Homo sapiens: one gene and its partner. The protein of the gene in region 2 purifies or fractionates together with the protein of the main gene of each other region. This does not show direct contact. Each region holds a gene or a part of one and is shown on either strand. Other genes may lie near its edges.

What was found.
Region 1: the proteins of SOWAHB (region 2) and DIAPH2 purify together in Homo sapiens (affinity purification with mass spectrometry; one large-scale study listed by BioGRID and IntAct). This does not show direct contact.

The regions. Positions count from the first base shown.
Region 1 is NC_000023.11:96,691,186-96,694,996, forward strand, and holds part of DIAPH2 (protein diaphanous homolog 2), read left to right. Parts: intron 1-3,811. UniProt on the Homo sapiens protein: Could be involved in oogenesis. Involved in the regulation of endosome dynamics.
Region 2 is NC_000004.12:76,895,253-76,899,813, forward strand, and holds the start of SOWAHB (ankyrin repeat domain-containing protein SOWAHB), read right to left. Parts: upstream 2,893-4,561; 5' UTR 2,598-2,892; coding exon 216-2,597; 3' UTR 1-215.

The DNA of each region.
Region 1 (3,811 bases), on a different chromosome or scaffold from region 2:
CTAGCACTACAGGGGTTATTGTTGAAGACCCAACTCCAGTCTACCATGCAGAAGAAACCGGTTCCTTCTGCTGGATTTGGGGTGTTTGATACATTTTTTTCCCCTCAAGACAGGAGAAACTATGATGATGTCCAGGTAACTTAAAATATAGTTATTAGCTTGATATCCAAGTGGGCATGTTGTGGAAGACACCCATTGTGGGATACAGCTCAAAACTGATGCATTTAAAGAAAGATTAAGATATATTTTCACATAGCTATTTATTGTGAATGTCAGTAATGGAGAGAAATTAACTCATACTGATTTAAAACTTATTTTCCTCATCAGGTTGAGTCTGTTTCCAAATAATATACTCTGGCTGTAGCTTAAACAGACAACTGAATTCTGGTATTTAACTGACTTTGTGTGAGGTTACCTGGCAGGGAAAGGTATTGGTCCCTTTCTCATGAAAGAATGTAGAAAACAAAATTCTTACTTATCACCATTTGCACAGTCTTTGGTTTACTGAAGATTTTACTGTATTGCTTTAAGGAGAGTAAGCTACATTGCTACAAATACATACCAGCATATTGGCCACCAGCTGTATACAGTGTGGCCTATGAATGAGTGAGAAGCTTCTAGGTAGCTATTAAGGCAGGCCTAGGTAGGAATCCAACACTTTATTAGGAAGGAATTATTCCGAAATGGCTGTTGACTCAATCACCTGGCAGTTCTGGCACTCACCCAAGGGAGAAGAGATTTTGGGTACAATCCTTTTTAAAAAATCTATTTGTTGTTCTGTGATATCATAGACATCCAGGCTTTAAAAAGAAAGATCTGCTCAAAATTAAGAGGAATTTTAACCTACCCTTAATTCGTTGGTCTGTTATTAAGCTAAAAGTAAAAGAAATAAACTTTTAAACTTCATAATATGAGCCAGTTAATGAGACTTTTTTACAAAACTTAAACAAATTTTCAAACGTGCTAAAAAGTAGAATAGTACAATGAACCACCACCATCTATCCATTGCCCAGATATAAGTTATCTACATTTTGCAACATTTGCTTGATCCATCCTTTATTTTTCCCTTGCTAAAGTATTTTAGTGCAAATCTCAGATATCTTGTCATTTTACTCCTACATACTGTCACGTCTTTAAAAATTAAAATTAACATATTCCTTGGTATCATCCAGCATTCATTCCATAATCAAATATTACCAATTGCCTAAAAAAATTAGATTTTTGATCTAAGGTGTACCTAATTGATATACATGTCACTGAACTCCTTAAACAAATACAGCTTTAAATTACTGGTAAAATCTTATTCAGAGTTACTCCACATAAAGTGCTATCATAAAGCCTCAGCCCAAATTAAGTTCACTTCTGTCTTTAATTCTGTAGAAGTATCTGGAAAGGTTGACTATACAAGGGTGGATAGACTCCTTGGAACAGCTGTTATGTACCATCAAAAATAGAACAAATTAGTTTTGGCTTTACTCACTGGTTGGGCAATCACTAATTCTTCATTTTGCAATTTGTGAAGTGGGGTGGGGCTTATGTGTAAGAATTTTCCTTTCAGGGAAATGCTGTAGATAGTTAGGCAAAGGAAAATTATTCTTCATTTCTCTAGATAAAGCGTTCATATGACTCTTTGACATTCACACCCCACCACAACAACTAAGTTTATGTTACTGGCTCTAGTTTTATTTCAAAACAAATGCCGGTTTGGTCTATCTTTGTTTTTCAGCCCCTTTGATATAGTCTAGGTTGCTGAATCTGGATAATTGGGTGAGTAAACCTTTACATAGAAGTTATTCTTATTGAGATGTTTGTGGGCTTACAATTGAAAATCAGACTACACTAATGAGGTGATGGAGCTGGGGATGGGTGGAGTAGGTAAATATGAGAAATCAACTTGGGCAAATGGCCTAGACTCCACACAGATTTGCTAAAGAAATTGTGTAACTATTACTTTCCAGACAGCAGTTTAGTGCTGTTATTGTGCTGAGAGGCAATAGGCAAATAATTTCACTAGCTGTAGACTCAAGTAGATTTAGGCTAGTAATCTGTCTCCACTCTGCAACTTCTAGACTGACCATTTACTAACCCAGTCAGTTGGGTAGTTTTCCTCAAAACAGATAGATGAGTGATAATTGTTGGAGCCAGAGAGCTGGCATTTTCTTCTTTTGTTTGGCCCGGGAGGGAAAACTATGGAGGTGGTGTTTTATGTGCTCTGAAATCAATCACTGATAAAGTCTTAAATGCTTAGTAGTCTATTGTGCTGGCTGAAACTGTTTACAAAGATTCTATATGTAGATAGGAAGACCTTGTATAGGCTGTACACTTGCATTGTGAGCTTTAATAATGTATACGTATAACAGAGACCAGGTCGGTATGTATGGGTGGGCCCTGACCAAGGGTGTGAGACCACAGAGGTCACACCACTTACCAAATCATGTGCCAGTTACAAGACTATGTCTTCCTGGGGCTGCGTTTTCTGATTCACACAGAGGCACCATATGGGCTAGCTAATACATTTAAAGCCAGATGGATTTTAGTCTCATACCTGATAAGAAATTCAGCAAGGATTCCGGGCATGGTGGCTCACGCCTGTAGTCCCAGGACTTTGGGAGGCTGAGGCGGGTGGATCACCTGAGGTCAGAAGTTTGAGACCAGCCTGGCCAACATGGTGAAACCCCATCTCTACTAAAAATACAAAAATTAGCTGTGCATGATGGGAGACGCCTGTAATCCCAGCTACTCGGGAGGCTGAGGCAGAAGAATTGCTTGAACCCAGAAGGCAGAGGTTGCAGTGAGCCAAGATTGCACCATTGTACTCTAGCATGGGCAACAAGAGTGAAACTTCATTTTGAGTAGGGATTTCTTATTTGTCATTGGTTCTGAGAAAAGAATGTAAGATGTATATTTATGTAATATCCTACACCTGATTACTTTTGCTTTTGAATTATTGAAATCTTCAAATGTAGATGGCTGTGCCCTTGAGGGCCTAGGTTATAGTTCAGTATGTTCATTATCTTCCCCAACTTAAGGGTTGAGTTCTGTTATAGCTAATTGTAGATCAATTAGCTTAAGGCTCCTCCCTTTCTGCACTCCTTTCAGCAATTTTCTTGACATAATTGTTTCACAGAGTTTTATATGGTTACGCATTATCTAGGCTGCATTTTTTTTTTTTTTAGATGGAGTCTCACTCTGTCACCCAGGCTGGAGTGCAGTGGCCTGATCTCTGCTTACTGCAACCTCCGCCTCCCGGGTTCAAGCGATTCTTCTGCCTCAGCCTCCCGAGTACCTGGGATTACAAGCATGCACCACCACGCCCAGCTAATTTTTGTATTTTTAGTAGAGATGGGGTTTCCCAATGTTTCCCAGGCTAGTCTCAAACTCCTGACCTCAAGTGATCCGCCCTCCTGGGCCTCCCAAAGTGCTGGGATTACAGGCATGAGCTACCGCGCCTGGCTGCATTGTTTTTTGAAGTTTGTACCATGCTTATTTCCACTTTCATTGCTCACGATACAGGGCAGAACATATAGAAAGTTAAGATGGGTTAAAACAAATTTGGCAGAAGCATTTCCTCTGATAATATGCTCTGCAATCTAGTACCTCACATTACAAAATCAACGTTTTTCAGAAGAGTCAGTGTGTACATAAAATATTTGTGAGTGAAAATAAACTTCTTAGGGTGCCCTCAGCTTGTTTTTCATTGACATTGCATTAGTTTACATTATCTACCTCCCCACCCCCACTTTGGTTGACTAGCTAATGGTCTTTTTTTTTTTTTTTTTTGAGACAGAGTCTCGCTCTGTCGCCCGGGCTG
Region 2 (4,561 bases):
TGTCTAGGTTTCTCCAGTCAAGGAGTTCAGCTTTCAAAAAGCTTGGATGACCCTCTTGAGGTCCAGGATGTAGTGACATAAGATCCAGGGAGGTCAACACCATCTCACTCGACCATCCTCTTTACCAACTCTCAGCAGCTTTTCTATTCCCCCTGAATTCTCTCACTGAGCAGGATGAGGGAGTGCTGCCTGCATGTTGGACAGAGAGACCCACCTCAGTCACTATACTCTTCTCTTTCCCTTGGACTGTGGAATTTCTCATACTGGTTGGCCAGTTTCCACTTGTTGTGCTGACTTTTGAGTAGTGCAGCGAAGGAAGTTTTTCGGGTGACACTTCTAGATATTTCCTTGCTCTTGGCCTTTCTGGTAGGGGAAGAACTTCCAACTAAGGGATAGACAGGGAAAATGGGCTTGCCCCGAGGAGCTCCCAACAGCTGCCATATTTCCCCAGAGGTATTACTGGTTAGATACTGCCATGGCTTCTTCCCACTGCTGTCCCTGACATTTACCCGAGAAGCCAACCTTTGCACTAGCAATTTGATGACCCCCTGGTGGCCGTGAATGGCTGCAAGGTGCAGCGGGGTATATCCACAACTGGACCTCACGTTTACATCAAGGACAATCCCTGCCTTCTTTGCTCCAGACACCAAGTCCTGAAGGGCCCTGAGGTCACCATGTTTGGCTATCCAGTGCAACGCAGTGTACCCAGTCAAAAAGTCTTTGTGCAAGGCCAGTTGAGGGTCCTCCCAGAACAAAGTCCACACCTGAATCCAGGAGCCACTGGCAAGCTTCACAATCCACTCATGCTCCCTGGCATCTAGTGGAACCAGGGATGATTTGTGCTCAGAAGTTCTGTGGGGGGCCAAGGCTGCAGACCCCTCCCCACTGGGGACCCACAGGCTGTGTCGCCAACCCCGCTCGGCCACAACAGCCTTAACCTCTGCAAGTTTTAGTGATAAACCTGCATCAACCCTTGGGCTGGGTGCCGTTCCTGCCTTGGAGGGCTTCCTGGATCGAGGTGGGCGCCGACTTCTTTTCAGCAAGCCCTCATCGAGGTACTCCTCATCAGAGGAGGACAATTTGGCTCTCCCTGCCAGAGAGCTCCTCCTGAGGGACCTCCTTAACTTAGGAACTGGCCAAGGCAAAGGCTTCAGGGGGTGGCCTGCAAGGCCATTAGCCCCTGCAGGGACCTGCTGAGAGATGTGACCATCCCCTCTGTTTCTGAGACCCTGAGGGCTCCGGCTGGGGCTGCCCTCCTTCCGAGATACAGAAAGGCCCCCAGCTGGATTCCTGAGCTTCCCCCTATCTGGGGTTCCCAAGACAACCTGCAGCCCCTCTTCAGAAGCCCCCGGGGAGTCTTTGGGCCCACTGCTGCTCTCCTCACTGCCATCACTCTCCTGGTCCACAAAGTCATCCAGATCTTGGAGGGACAGCTGACAACGAATGCTGCGAAAGACAGTCAATGAAGGGTTCCCCGCCCAGGATTCCCAGGACTCATCCGGAACAACAGGAAAGAGAGAGTGCGAGGAAAGACAGGGGTCTGGCGGCTCTGAATTAGGCTCCGTGGAGCCGGGTTCCAAGGGCAGCTGGAGGAAGTTGTCTGGCAGCACCGACCAGGCGCGGATAGGGCCCTGATCACGGGCCTCGGGCACCTGCGGGTGCCTGGCCACCCACTCTCGAGTGCGCTGCTGCTGCTGCTGCAGGGTCGAATAATGCAGGGAGCTGGGGGTCAGCAGCTCCGGCCGGTCTCCGCGGGGAGCGGGGCCGGGCAGGAGAGCAGGCGGGGAAGCCCTGCTTGTCGCAGCCTCGACGGTGGCGGGAGGCGAGTGAGCCACTGCAGGCACAGGCGCCGGCTCAGCTAGCGCGCCTTCTTCCCGCTCCCTGGAAGCCCCGCGGTCATCCTGGGCAGGCAGAGCCCGTGCCGGCTTCTCCTCCGCGGTGGCCGAGTGCGGGAGTGCGCCGAGCTCTCCCGGCAGTACAGCCAGGTTGTTCTGGAGGCATTCCCAGCAGCAGCGGCCCTGCGTCTTCGCCGCCGCGCAGCTCGCTCTCGCCTGGGCCCCTGCCGCTGCAGCTGCGGGCACCGGCGGCCTCTGTCCGGGACTGCCCTTCGATCCGCCGCCCTTCCCGGGCGCCCTACGGGAGTCGCTGCCCGGGAGTCCATTGCAAGCTGCGTCGGCGGCTCTGGCTGCTGCACCTGCTGGCTCCTCCTCCGGCTCCTTCTCGCGCCGCCGCCGCCTGGGCTGCTGCTGGGGCGGCTCCCCCCGGCGCGCGCCTCGCGGGGAGCAGGGCGCAGCTCCCCCTGCACTGGGGGCGGCCGCGGGCGGCTCGCGGGGTCGCTGCAGCCCCTCCTCCCCCAAAAGGTCCCTGTATCTCCTCTTGAGCACCACGTACTTGGTGCCGTCGGGGTCCTGGCGCACTGCGGCGACCGAGTTGACGAAGCCCTTGAAGAGCTCGCGGCGGTGCTGGTGCTGGCTGGGGGACGCGTCGGGGTCTCGGAGAAAGCTCTTGAAGTGGCTCAGCAAGGCAGCGTTGGTCACGCGGCCCCCAGCCTGGCACAGAAAGTCCAGTAGTGCCTCCTGGCTCAGCTCTCGGGCCATCGCTGCCTTGTCCTCCGCCCCAGAGGTGTCTGAGTCTCGCCCTCCCGGGGCTCTCCCCAGCCAGAGGAAACCCTGGCCGGGCGAGTGTCACCTGCGCCCGGGGCGGCACTAGCCGCCCCCATCAGCCGCGGAGGCCAGCGCTGCCCGCAGCCCGTGAGCGCGCCAGGAGGGCCGTGGGTCCCCTCCGGGTGGCCCCAAGGCTGAGTCCCCGCGGCAGTCTGCGTGAGAGAGGGCGGCTCCGAGGCCGCCCCTGCGCGACTCTAGCCTCTCGCAACGAGTCCTCACAGCGAAAGTTCCCGGGATAGGGCCGAGTCGGTTTCACCTGCGCCCTGGCGGCACCTCCTCCCTGCCTCTGGGGGAAGGGTCAGGCCCGCCTCCTCGTGTCCCTCCGCCCCCTGAGGTCTCCCCCACCCCCTGCCACCCATCCCAGAAGAGTCAGGCCGGAGAGCCAGCCGGTAGGTGAGGTTGGCGGCGAACCGAGCCGGCAGCGAACTGCTCTGCGGCCGGGGAAGTGGAAGGCAGGTAGGCGACCGGCCGTTCCTCTAAGTCTCCGCCACGCAGGAAACAAAAGCGATAGAAGGTCCGTTCCTGTCCTCCGGTGCTTTGATGAGTTCAGGCTGAAGCCGATGGGGGAGGAGGAGAAGCTGCAAGTTAACAGGCAATCTGAGTTATCTTTCTTTATTAACGCTGTAGAGGAGTACTTCAGATTTCTCGAGGCTGTATTGAGGTCCGCAAAACTCACTTTGCATCCAAACTAAATTTTTCTTAATATAGAAATACTTTCTGGGCCGCTTCTCCGGCGCCCCCTCCAAGGGGTCCGAATACATCCAAGTCTATACTGAAAAGAGAAATCACTCTGAAAATTACTACTGGGCAATATTGGTTTGGGACTTTTTCTTTCATACTTGTCTTTCCTTCATACTTGTCTCACATTAAGGTGCTGGAAAAAAAAAATCACTTTGATAGCTTCTTGCCCCCGGCGGCTAAAATGAACTAGGAATTATGTCTCGCCAGTTAAGGTATTTGATGTGTAGCATTAGTTTGCTTTTATTTACTCTAAAATTTGTGAACAGCAGAGATTTGTACAGTGTTTTGTATTGGCTTGGTGAAGTGCTTCCTTTCAGAATGTAAGGTTCAAAATGCAGACTAGAGCTGTCTTTAACAGCACCTTTTCCCCCTAACAGCTGGGATCCCTCTTCCTTTTTCTCTCTCCACATGTTGACCCTTCTGTCTTTGATGTGAGATCCTGGATGTCCCTCACTGTTCCTTATCAGTCCTGTTGACATGCCTGAGATAGTTTTCACTGTCATTATCTCTTTACCTGTTTTAGTTCCAAGCCTTCTCTCATTCTTTTCTTTAACTTGGCCTTCCCATTTCTTTCTGTTACACGACATCCTTGTTTACCTTCGGCCTCTACTGACAGGAAATATGTCTGTTTCTCAGATCCTCTCATGTCCACTGTATTTCCCATTCAAAAACCTCGATTTTCTCCTTCCCTGTAATTTGCCTCTCTTTTCTCATGGACTCTTCTCATCTTTTCACTTTTCCTTTTGCTCTTCTATTTCTGATTACTCATAGTTCCTATACTTCTCGCCAAGAAAGAGTATTGAAAGTATGTGTGTTGGCCCTACAATTGTTGACAAAGACATGTTTTAGCATGGACCAATCTTAGTGACTGCCCTATAGACCACATTAACTGAGCTTGATTTTAAATCCCCAAAAATACCCTAGCACTTTTCCAGGAATGAATCTTTGGTTTTACATTATCTAGGTCAGAAAAAAAGAACTGGAAACATTTTTGTCTATTTTTGGCATTTTCTAGGATCCAAACCCAATACTGGGTTGAGAGAGGGATAGTGGTTTTCACTGATGTCTCTACATAACATCAAGCCTTTAGGATAGTTTTTAAAATTAAGGTTTTGTATTAAATTTCAGCTTTCTTTTGAGTTTATTTGCTGGTATAG